Homo sapiens: one gene and its partners. The protein of the gene in region 3 interacts with the protein of the main gene of each other region in a biochemical or structural test. Each region holds a gene or a part of one and is shown on either strand. Other genes may lie near its edges.

What was found.
Region 1: of the proteins of PPM1A (region 3) and PAK2, one has a biochemical effect on the other in vitro, tested with the Homo sapiens proteins (one study listed by BioGRID).
Region 2: of the proteins of PPM1A (region 3) and CDC42BPB, one has a biochemical effect on the other in vitro, tested with the Homo sapiens proteins (one study listed by BioGRID).

Annotation. Positions count from the first base shown.
Region 1 is NC_000003.12:196,826,841-196,830,591, forward strand, and holds part of PAK2 (serine/threonine-protein kinase PAK 2), read left to right. Parts: intron 1-355; coding exon 356-493; intron 494-1,478; coding exon 1,479-1,565; 3' UTR 1,566-3,751. UniProt on the Homo sapiens protein: Serine/threonine protein kinase that plays a role in a variety of different signaling pathways including cytoskeleton regulation, cell motility, cell cycle progression, apoptosis or proliferation.
Region 2 is NC_000014.9:103,055,554-103,059,304, forward strand, and holds the start of CDC42BPB (serine/threonine-protein kinase MRCK beta), read right to left. Parts: upstream 1,997-3,751; 5' UTR 1,621-1,996; coding exon 1,446-1,620; intron 1-1,445. UniProt on the Homo sapiens protein: Serine/threonine-protein kinase which is an important downstream effector of CDC42 and plays a role in the regulation of cytoskeleton reorganization and cell migration. Regulates actin cytoskeletal reorganization via phosphorylation of PPP1R12C and MYL9/MLC2.
Region 3 is NC_000014.9:60,294,171-60,297,921, reverse strand, and holds part of PPM1A (protein phosphatase 1A), read right to left. Parts: 3' UTR 1-3,751. UniProt on the Homo sapiens protein: Enzyme with a broad specificity. Negatively regulates TGF-beta signaling through dephosphorylating SMAD2 and SMAD3, resulting in their dissociation from SMAD4, nuclear export of the SMADs and termination of the TGF-beta-mediated signaling.

The DNA of each region.
Region 1 (3,751 bases), on a different chromosome or scaffold from region 3:
AACCCAGGAGGCAGAGGTTGCAGTGAGCCAAGATTGCACCACTGCACTCCAGCCTGGGTGACAGAGCAAGATTCCGTCTCAACAAAAAAAAACAAAACAAAAGCAATATGTATTGCATTTATAACCGAAGAAAAACCAAAGGTGAATCTGATTTCAGAAAAGTAACTTAAGGAAATGTAACATCTAAAAATAAGAGGAAAGTATCAAATCTAAATTTAAATGGGATAATGATAACCCCAGTTTAGTATTTATGGTGATTTTCTTTAAAGAAGAAAGAATCCCTTAGACTTTATGGAGTGCTCTGTGACCGTGTTGAGCTATCTTAAGTGGATCAAAGATGTTCTTCTATTTTTAGGCCTTGTACCTAATAGCAACTAATGGAACCCCAGAACTTCAGAATCCAGAGAAACTTTCCCCAATATTTCGGGATTTCTTAAATCGATGTTTGGAAATGGATGTGGAAAAAAGGGGTTCAGCCAAAGAATTATTACAGGTAAATTTAAAAATGATTTCATTTGGGGGAATAGTTGACTTTTTTGGTAACCGACAGAAAGCTTTCCTAGGGCTAATAAGTAGATTTCACTACTCATTGATCACCAGCGGTATGGCAGCTGCTGCAATTTAGGGTTTCATCCTACCATGCTGAGCAAACTACCGCAAGGACAGAAAACCAAACACTGCATGTTCCCACTCATAGGTGGGAATTGAACAATGAGAACACCTGGACACAGGAAGGGGAACATCACACACCGGGGCCTGTTGTGGGGTGGGGGGAGTGGGGAGGGATAGCATTAGGAGATATACCTAATGTAAATGATGAGTTAACAGGTGCAGCACAGCAACATGGCACATGTGTACATATGTAACAAACCTGCACGTTGTGCGCATGTACCCTAGAACTTAAAGTATTAAAAAAAAAAGTGAGGGTTTCATCTGCTGTGAATAAAATTCTGACAAAACCGTAATGTGCAGTTTGTGCATCGTATCAATCCTCAGACCTGTTTACAGTTTGTGCATCGTATCAATCCTCAGACCTGTTTACAGTTTGTGCATCGTATCAATCCTCAGACCTGTTTACAGTTTGTGCATCGTATCAATCCTCAGACCTGTTTACAGTTTGTGCATCGTATCAATCCTCAGACCTGTTTACAGTTTGTGCATCGTATCAATCCTCAGACCTGTTTACAGTTTGTGCATCGTATCAATCCTCAGACCTGTTTACAGTTTGTGCATCGTATCACTCCTCAGACCTGTTTATTGCTGTTGTGTGTATATTTGTCAAACTAAAATGATTCTGCTTTCATTCAACTCTGAAAGTAATGCGTTGATTATGTTAGTCTTATGAAGGTATTAATATGTGTTTAGTTTATTAAATTATGATCGACAAGTAGTCTTTGGGGCTTAATTGAACAAAATTATTTTGTTTCTAACCTGATGAATGGCACTTATACATTTATTTTTCCCCTTCTTTCTGGCAGCATCCTTTCCTGAAACTGGCCAAACCGTTATCTAGCTTGACACCACTGATCATGGCAGCTAAAGAAGCAATGAAGAGTAACCGTTAACATCACTGCTGTGGCCTCATACTCTTTTTTCCATTTTCTACAAGAAGCCTTTTAGTATATGAAAATTATTACTCTTTTTGGGGTTTAAAGAAATGGTCTGCATAACCTGAATGAAAGAAGCAAATGACTATTCTCTGAAGACAACCAAGAGAAAATTGCAAAAAGACAAGTATGACTTTTATATGAACCCCTTCTTTAGGGTCCAGAAGGAATTGTGGACTGAATCACTAGCCTTAGGTCTTTCAGCAAACAGCCTATCAGGGCCATTTATCATGTGTGAGATTTGCATTTTACTTTGCTGACTTTGTTGTAATAGATCCCATTCATTGTCCCCTTTGGGGTATTTCCAATACTTGAATGGCAGATTGGAGTTTTTCAGAGTATGTGTTTCATCTGCTAGTCTTTCTCTCCTTCATAGCTTTTCTTTTCCTGGACTTGCTCCTTTTGAGTTGCTTTTGCGTTTCTCATGCCTAGGCAAGTGTAATAGAAATTATGTAGCTCCTTATGTTGGCAAAGGAGCTCTATATAGTTTCACTTTGTATAAAAGTTAGGACCAGCTGTTGTTACATGTAATATTTTAGTTCAGAACTTGACCTGAAGGAAGGGAAGAAAAGTATGTGATTTTTACCTTTTTTAACAAATGTGAAAAAGTCAGTTTTAGAAATTTCGTGGTAGTAAGTTCGGCATTTGTTACATGTATAGAGAGAAGACTAATAATCTCTATTTATAACTAAATCATTGAGATAGAAAAAGATTCCCATTGACTGTAGACTTCTTCCCATTTTGTCTTCCCTTCTGCCTGTTTCCCCTTCAGGCTTGGCTCTAGGAACCAAAGTGATTTGTTGTTGTTCCAACCTGGGCTTTGTGACTTTGGTTAGTGCCACTACCTTCTTCCCTCCTTTCCCCCTTCAATTTGGAAATAAATTTCTGTATATGTTGCAATTTTAGGTTTAGGTTTGTTCTTTTTCTTTTTCATTAATCCTCTCTCACCTCACAGATACCCCCTCCCATGGCAAATAATATAATAACCAGTGAATTTTCAGGAATTTAAAAATTAGCTTTTTTCCACTTAAAGGAGAAAAATATTTGGGACTAGCAGCAGAGGCAGTAAGAGATGTGAACCTTGGTGAGCTCTGATACAGTGAGAAGAGATTATACTCATGAAAGAGAATGTTAGTGTTACAGAGAAGCAGCCGATAGCAAATCGACTGTAGAGACTTGGCGGCGGTGGCATTGCCCCAGGTCGTCAGCAGTGTGGTATTATCTATGAGAACTTGAGCGACAGAGTATTTCTTGATGAATTTATAGATCATTTGAGATGTTGAGTTACTTTAGTTTAGTTTTGTTTTGTTTTTTCAAATAAGTAGAGACTATTGTAAAAAACGAGAAAGGAAAATGAAATGTGCGTGTTGATAGCAATAATTTGTTTCTTTTAAAGATTCTAAAAGGTCTGAGACCTGTAGCATTAATTATTTGAGTGCCCTCCCTTCTCCCCTCCCCTCCCTTTTCTCTTCTCTTTTTTCCTCTCCTCTTCTTCTCCTTTATTCATTGTTTTGCTTTTGGAGTGGGTGTTGTTCAAGTATCTGTGGTTTGGTTCTGGCATTTTGTTCCCACCATCCCCTTCCCCCATTAACTTCCCCCCTGCTTGCCATCCTGCAGTAGTATAAATCATGAATAAAAAATAATTTTGCTGTTGTAGTATACATTGGAGAAACTGGCAGGTTTTATTTCCATTATTTTATTTCCACTATATCTATGATAAGATGCAATTATAAGGAGAGAAGTGACTGTTTTTTATTGATAAGGCAAGATTTTCAGAAAAATGAGTAAAATAATTAATGAAACATATTTAGAGCACTTAATGGTCTCTGTTTTCAATATAATTCTTGATTTCATTTTTCTCTGGAATATATTGGCCTTCTACAGCTATTACTGAATTATAGAAACTGGTTTATTTCTGGCAGAAAGCTGCAGTGCCACCTGAGTTCCAAATTTTACCATTCTTTGTAAACAGTTGGATGGATTATGATAAAGAAGATGCTACCAATGAAATAGAAAACCAACGAGATGAGAAGACTGTGATCCTCATGTACTCAGAGGCACTTCCCTCCTAAGTCAAAGACCATCCTCACTGACTATGTGCCAACGCCTCGTTTCAGGCTTGTGACTCAACAAAGGGCTTTTCC
Region 2 (3,751 bases), about 43 Mb from region 3:
GCAAATACTCTTAATTTACTGATACTATAAGTAACCAAGAATGGTGGTTCCCACGGAAATAAAGCATCACAGGCTGTCCTTGATCTCAGGACCTCTTTCTACTGCTGCTCTCACAAGATACCGTGTAACATTTCACTACAGAGTAATCCAACAGAAGCCCTCTAAAGAATATTGCAACTTAAGTTTTATTTGTAAACAAAATTCCAAATTCCAGTCACCAATCTGGCAGAGTAGAGTAGGAGGCCTGGAGGCCTCACTGTGGAACACTTTCATTTGTTTCTTCGTATAAATATCAGCTTTATCAGCCCCAAAGATTAGAAATTACTGGTTCGAACTGAACAGTCCTAGCCCAGTGACGCAAATGACCCAAGGATAAGGTTTTCATAGGTTTGGCCTGAACATACGCATTTCCTCCTCCTACTCAGTGGTTTTAGGTGAGACAGTCTGAGGGTCTTGACCGGCACACCCGTTAGGGAGAGATGAAGTAAAAGAGTTTCACGCTGCACTTTTACCTGTCTTTAGGATCCTAATTATCGTTAAATGGTTTAATCAAATTTTTGTCCTAAAAAAGCATAATAGGTTAGCTGACCAATGATTAAAACATTATAGATCCGGAACGAACTAGAGAAGGCATGCAAAATTCAGATGAGAAAGTTTCTAAGTGATAGCTCCAGCTACCCCTCCAAATATCACAAAGGTCTAGCAGAATTGGAATTAAAAAAAAAAAGTCCTCTTGCACGGTTTATTTAAAATAAAGCCTTAACCTTAAAATTCCCTTGAAGGTGTTACAGCAAAGTAGGTATTCAGGCTCTGACCAACAAGGGGATGTAGACAGGCTGTCACCCAGGAGGGGCCGTTAGAGCTGGGCTCCCTGGGGATGCAAGGGGGTCCCACGGGGCAGTGGGCGAGGCAGATGCAGAAAGCACACCCAGCTGCCCCCACAACGCAGAGAAGCGTGGGGTGGGGAAAGGGAACTAATTCCACACTGCCTCCGGACCCCAAAGGCGAGGTGCGGGGGCGGGGGCGGGGGCGGGGGCGGATATCCCAGTGAGTGCTGCAGGAAATGATATCCAGACTCGGAGGGTGGATCTAGGAAGCCGCCAGGGCGAGGGCCCGGCGGGGGGGAGGGGGTGGGAGTGGGAACGTAGGATGTGGCTCCAAGGGGCAGGATGAGGGGGCGGGACGATCGAACGCGGATGTCGAGCCTAGGGAGGGCAAGGAGGGATGAAAAGCTAGCGGAGGGACGAGGGTGCAAGGAGCGGCTGGAGAGAGATGGGCTGCGGGCCTGGGGGCGCTGCCAGAGCGAGAGGAGGCGAAGCCCACGAGCTGGGTGGGCAGGAGGGCGGCAGGGTCTGTCCGGGCGGGGATGGGCGGGCGTGGGGATGCGCGGGCTGGGGCGCGGGGGTCGCAGAGCCGCAGGTCCGGCCCTGCCGGCGCGCACTTACCCCACTCGAGGAACTCGGCCACGTACTTGTCGCGGCGCAGGGCCGAGTGGCTGCACTCGGTGTACAGGCAGACGAGCACGTCGAGCAGCGTTTCCACGCTCAGGGCGCTCTCGTTGCGCCAGGGCCCGTCCAGGAGCAGCTGCTCCAGCTTCTTGAGCCGCACCTTGGCCGACATGGTGCCGCGCGGCCCGCTCCCGACGCGCCGGCCTCTCACCGCCGGCTCGGCCAGTCCGTCAGGGCGCGCCCTCGGGGGCTCGGCGGCTGCGAGCCCCGGCAGCAGCGGCGCCTCCTCGCCGCCCCGTCCGCGTCGTCGCGCCCCGGCCTAGGCCGACATCTTGGGCTCCGTCCCGACGGCGCAGAGTCTGGGGCGCCGGGCCCCGCGGGTCCATGGGCCGCTCTCCTCCCCTCGGCGCCGCCGCCCTCCCAGCTCGGGCGGCCCGCCCCCGCCGCCCTCAGCCCCGCCCGCGGCCGCGCCCTCCCCGCCGCCGCCGCCGCAGACTAGGAGCGGCGAGGAGCCTAGCGCTGCGCAAGCCCGGCCGGCGCCCGAGCCCGACCCCAGCCCCGACCCGGCGGCCCAGCCCCGCGGCCCGCAGCCAACCAGGGCGCGGCCAGCACCAGCGCAGCCAACCACTACGGGGCCGGCCGCCGCCGCGCTGACCTCAGCGCGCCGCCCCGCCCCGCGCCCGGCTCCCTGCTCCCGGCGGGCTCGGGCCTCGCCGCTTGCCGTAGGGAGCCGGGATGCTGGGAAGGCAGGGCCGGGCCTGGGGAGCGGCGCGGGGTGGGGGTGGGGGGGGCGGGGCGGGGCGAGTGGGCCGCTGAGATTGCGGAGCCCGCGCATGCGCAGAGCGCGCCTGGTGGGCGTGTGCGCCTTCGCCCTGCGGACCCGGTGCCTTCAGTATTCGGGGTCCGACCGCGCGCGTCGCGGATCCCGGGGCCGAAGACGACCCCAAGTATCGGAGAGGCAGAGTCGCGATCTCAGGCCGTCGAGCCCCGTCCCGCAGTCCGCGGGCCCATGTTGCCTGCGGGGCCTCGGACCTGCCCGGCCGAGGTGGGGGTCGAGGGCGGCCCGGCAGGCGCAGCTCTGATGGCCTCGGCGGGTTGTGGGCTATTTAAAACGGCTTGTCCCAGCTCGAAGCGGTCCTGGAAGACTCGGGCCCTACCCCTGACTTTACCGATGAGAGACTGAGGCCCAGACGGTGTGGGGTCAGGGCCCAGGCTTCTGGGGGATGCTGCCAAGGCGGGAGCCAGCGTCCCCAGTGCCCGGTGGATTCGTGATGGCTTGCAGAGGGTTTCAGTTTCCACTGTCCAGCCCTCCCTGCAGACCAATGCCTAGGTGTGACAGTTTGGTAGGAAAGGGGCCGGATATTTGTCTCCAGGCTGGGTTTGCCTAGCGAGTCGCTGCATTTACTAAGATTGTTGGTTAATTTGGGTGGCTGGGGGAGGGAGGCTGATGGAGATACCCCCCAACCCCAACAAACCCTTGGCGTCAGGAGAGGAGGGGCTTTTCCTGGAGCTTGCGGAAGGTCACCGAAATCGTGGGGGTATCTGAGAGCTTCTGGGGCGCGCGGGTGCAGGGGAAGGGGTCATGCTTCCGTGGAAGCGGTGGCCTCCAGGTGGAGCCGATGAAGGGGCAGATAGGGGTTTGAAGCAGGACGTTAAGGGAGCCTGAAGCAAAACTAATCTCTGGAGCTAAAAATAGGAGTGGGCCTGGCGCGGTGGCTCACACCTGTAATCCCAGCACTTTAGGAGGCCGAGGTGGGCGGATTGCCTGAGCTCAGGACTTCGAGACCAGCCTGGGCAACACGGTGAAACCCCGTCTCTACTAAAATACAAAAAACTAGCCGGGCGTGGTGGCGCGCGCCTGTAGTCCCAGCTACTCGAGAGGCTAAGGCAGGAGAATTACTTGAACCCGGGAGGCGAAAGTGCAGTGAGCCAAGATCGCTCCACTGCACTCCAGCATGGGCAACAGAGCACGACTCCGTCTTAATAATAGTAATAATAATAAGAAGAAGAAGAAGAAGAAGAGGAGTGGCTGCCTATGCCGGAGTTGTTGACTGGAACAAGAGGAGGAACCTTCTGGGCTGCTGGTAATGTTCTATGCCTGGATTTGGGTAGTAGTTACATGGGAGCACGCATAAGTAAACATTCTTCAAACTGTCTTCTTAAGATGAGTGCATGTCACTGTGTGTATGTATATATAATACCTTCATTTCTTAAAGGCAGGTGAGAACAATCTGGCGTTAGAGGTGAGAGTACTGGTTGCCTTTGGGGTATCAACTGGAAGGAGGCACAAGGAGAGGCCTCTA
Region 3 (3,751 bases):
TGTACTTTAGAATGGGCTCTTAACCAGGGGGCCCATGAACCACTACAATATTGTAAACTTTAGGGAGATATGTATGTTATATACGCATTTTCCTGGGTAAATAAGTCCCTAGGATTCATCAGTCTCAAAACGCCTGTGACCCCAAAAGGTTAAGAAGCATTGCTAAAATGATTTTGTGTCATTCACTGTACCTAATTAGGATATAACTAATTTTGTTCCGCAGCTACCCGATCTCTTACATCAATCTAACTTACTTTAGATAGTACCATACAAATGCACGTTACTAAATAGTCTTATACTGGATCAGGAGGACTATGTAAAAGAAAAAGAAAAACTCTAAACAACTTTTCTAAACATTTAGTTTAATGAGAAAACCATTAGTTGAAAACTGGGTTTTGGAGCAATGAAAAGAAATGAAGGGTTGGGTTTTCTAGTGAAGAAACATTGCATTAATTCTTCTCAGTTGTTTCTATGCTGAAGAATCAGTAACTTATTAATTTCCTTGCTGGAAAAATCAAATTATCTGAAGCAGCAAAGGTTCATTCTTGTTGGTTTATGTGACACAATAGTTCTTATAAATTTACAGCCACGTACAAGGAAGACTTTCCTATGGCTTTTAAAACAATTAAGAGTAATCCTTCCCTACCTATCCCACTGCCATTTCCCCATTCCTCCATCTCCCAAGTTTTCTCATTTTCAGCCCGGTTTAACACAGTATTAGCTGGCCTTGATGAAGTAACACACTAAGCTTTCTTGCTCAAGAAAATGGAATTGGCCTGTTTCTGTTTGAAAAAAAGAGAAAACACCAAGAGGAAAGTAGAGGAAACAAGGGCAATATTTCGTGCAGGATAAGGAAGAAAAAAAGTCCACTTTGTTGTTATATCAACTTAATCTTTTTTCTCCATCTCATAAAAATATAAGTTGTCAACTGTAATTTCAATACCATCTAAGTTTTTCTAATTAGCACTCCTACCTGCTAGTAATATAAATAGGAAAACAGTGAGAGCAGAAGCCACTATCTTAACATACAGAACAATCGAAAGGGAAAGAATCTGTGAACAAAATTAGAAAACGTTCATTTGACAATGAATTGGAACCAATGCCTCTCATCATTTCTATTGAGCATTTTGACTATCAGTAATAACAAACATTTAACTGAGACTTATTATTCTGATCAACAAAACAATACAGTATTATACATTTTGAAAATGTATTCTTAAATATTTCAAGCATATTCCAAGGAAATATACAATTTAAAACATATACAAACCAAAACACATGGCACATAATTGAAGGAAGTAAGAGCAAATTAGGCTTCTAAAATTTTGAACTCTAAAGAAGGCTTCCTAATGCCTAAAAGAAAAACTAGAAGACTAGATACTCAAAAAATGGTAATCTCACCAGCAGTTTCTGTGAGCAAAAGTATATAAAACTCTTTAAGGTCCCTTAGAAGAAAAACCTCAAATGAGAAACAATTATATACTAAGATATTTACACATCTTTTCTAATACCAAATCCTAATACAATACTGTACAAACAGCTGAGTTTGAACTAAAAGTATATACCATGAAATTCAAAATTAAAACAAAACGAAAAATGGAGAAAAAAAGCAGTACCCAATTTCATCAGTTCTTTCAGAAATCACAAGTTGAACTCCAAATGAGTTTGTCCAGTAAAGATGGGCAGTGAAATTATTTTAAAATATTAAAACACATAGTAATAATTTGGCTAAAATTTGATATTAACACTGGCAGTGTGTTACAAAAACACAGAGTTCTACTTAAGATAAATTTAGCTAGAGATATTTACATTTTTAAATGCCTTAAACTCAAACCCCACCTACATTTCCATGGCTGGATAATTTTCAGAAATCTACTACCTATTCCTCTGAGTTACTGCTGTCAGCAGGAAGAATAAAGGCCGTTGGATAAATGCAATCAAGGATACTGAATGGGCTTAAGCCTCTTCAGTCCAATTTTATTCTTATGCTAAGCAAAATTTTCTTCTGAATTACTCTTTAACTTTAGAGAGAAGAAAATAAACTGGAGAACAGTTTTCAGGTGAGTAAAGGAAGTATAAACAAGGTCTTTAGGGCAGGGGCCTGCCTTGATCAGCTAAGTACCTGGTAGATAGCAGGTGGGCAATAGATATATATATATATTTTTTGATGAGTGATCCAGTTATAATACTAACATACACTAGATTATAAATTGTCCAGATGTAAACTTGAAGCCAAGGATCTACTCATTTCTTTACAGTCCCAATGTGCTTAGCCTAGAACAGTGTTTTACCAATAATACTCGAAACATTTTGTAAAAAAACTGAGTTATTAGCTGGGTTAATATATAGTCCTATGAATGATCACTAAAAGTACTGCTGTAATTCAGATTACTTGAATTACATAACTAATTTATTACTTAATCCAAATTTCTTAATGTTGAGATTAGTATAAAAAATTAAGTGGCTAGAGCAGTTGCATTAAGTACTCTAGAAGCAAGTTAATGCACTATAAAGTAAAAATATGTTTGAGATACTTCCAAAGCTGAATTAAGTTATCACTTTGATTTTTTAAAGTATATGCTAATATTGAGAACTGCTTCTATTGTCTATAAAAGTATATTCCCAAGAAAGTGGAAATTAGGAGATTCTACCCTGTTAATGAAAGAAAGATCAGTGAAATTTTTTAATGTTAGGGTAAAACAGAGCCTGCTATACAAAATGTTATTTCCTATTCATAGCAGCAAATAAGACATTTAAATGATAAAAGTATATTTTGAGTACTATATTATCATCACATAAGAACTTTTTCCCTCCAAAGAACAGAACACATCAAACATTTTTGAGGCATTGCCCTGAGATGCTAATTAGCACAAAAAAAGGGGATGGGGGTGAAGAATTTAAGTGGTACAAGAATGAAGTGCACAATAGAGGTGCAAAAGTGCCTTTAAAAAGTATGGTTGGTTTCCCCCCACTATTACCTCCAGGAATCAGGAACACACACAGTCTGCTGTTATAATGTATACTTCCTTCCTGTATTTTTATAGTAAAAAAATTATTAGTATGGCAGTGCTGACTCATGTGGAAAAGATTTAGTCTTCTCACATCACTCAAATACGGTTCTCTCTCGTGTCCAAGCCTAATTTCAATACTAATAATTTTGACAGGAATATTTTAATTTTCTCTTGTTTAAAGACTCAAAAAAAAAAGGCTCTAAATATGCTGTTATGGTTTGAAATACAGCTTTCCATCACATACTCTACTTGTGACTTAAGTTTTGCATCTCAAAAGATTACACAGTCCAGTTCAAAGTTTTGCAATTTCTGGAACTAAAGTTGTCAGTCTACTTAAAATATTAAGGAACTGGTTTGTTATAATAGGGATTTAGCTTTCAGTACCAGTATGTCTGGTAATTAGTCTATACTAGAAGCACTGGTATTCATTAAATGCACATTTAGATGCTTGCAAAGCCATAACTTAGAACATTATCATACTTCGCACTCTACCACAGATTTAGACATTAAGTATTTATTGTAAGTATGGAATTGGTTCTGTAATTTCAACTGATATGAATTTCTAAATATAAATAGTACTTCAGTTTTTCCTCATTCATGCTGGAATAAGATATAAATTAAATACAATTAAGTTACATTTAATCACCTCACAAAATAAGAGGGATAATGAAAAGATTTTGCTGGTATTTAACTACTTAAATCTGAGACATTTCACATTACTTTCCCCACTACTCCCCTAA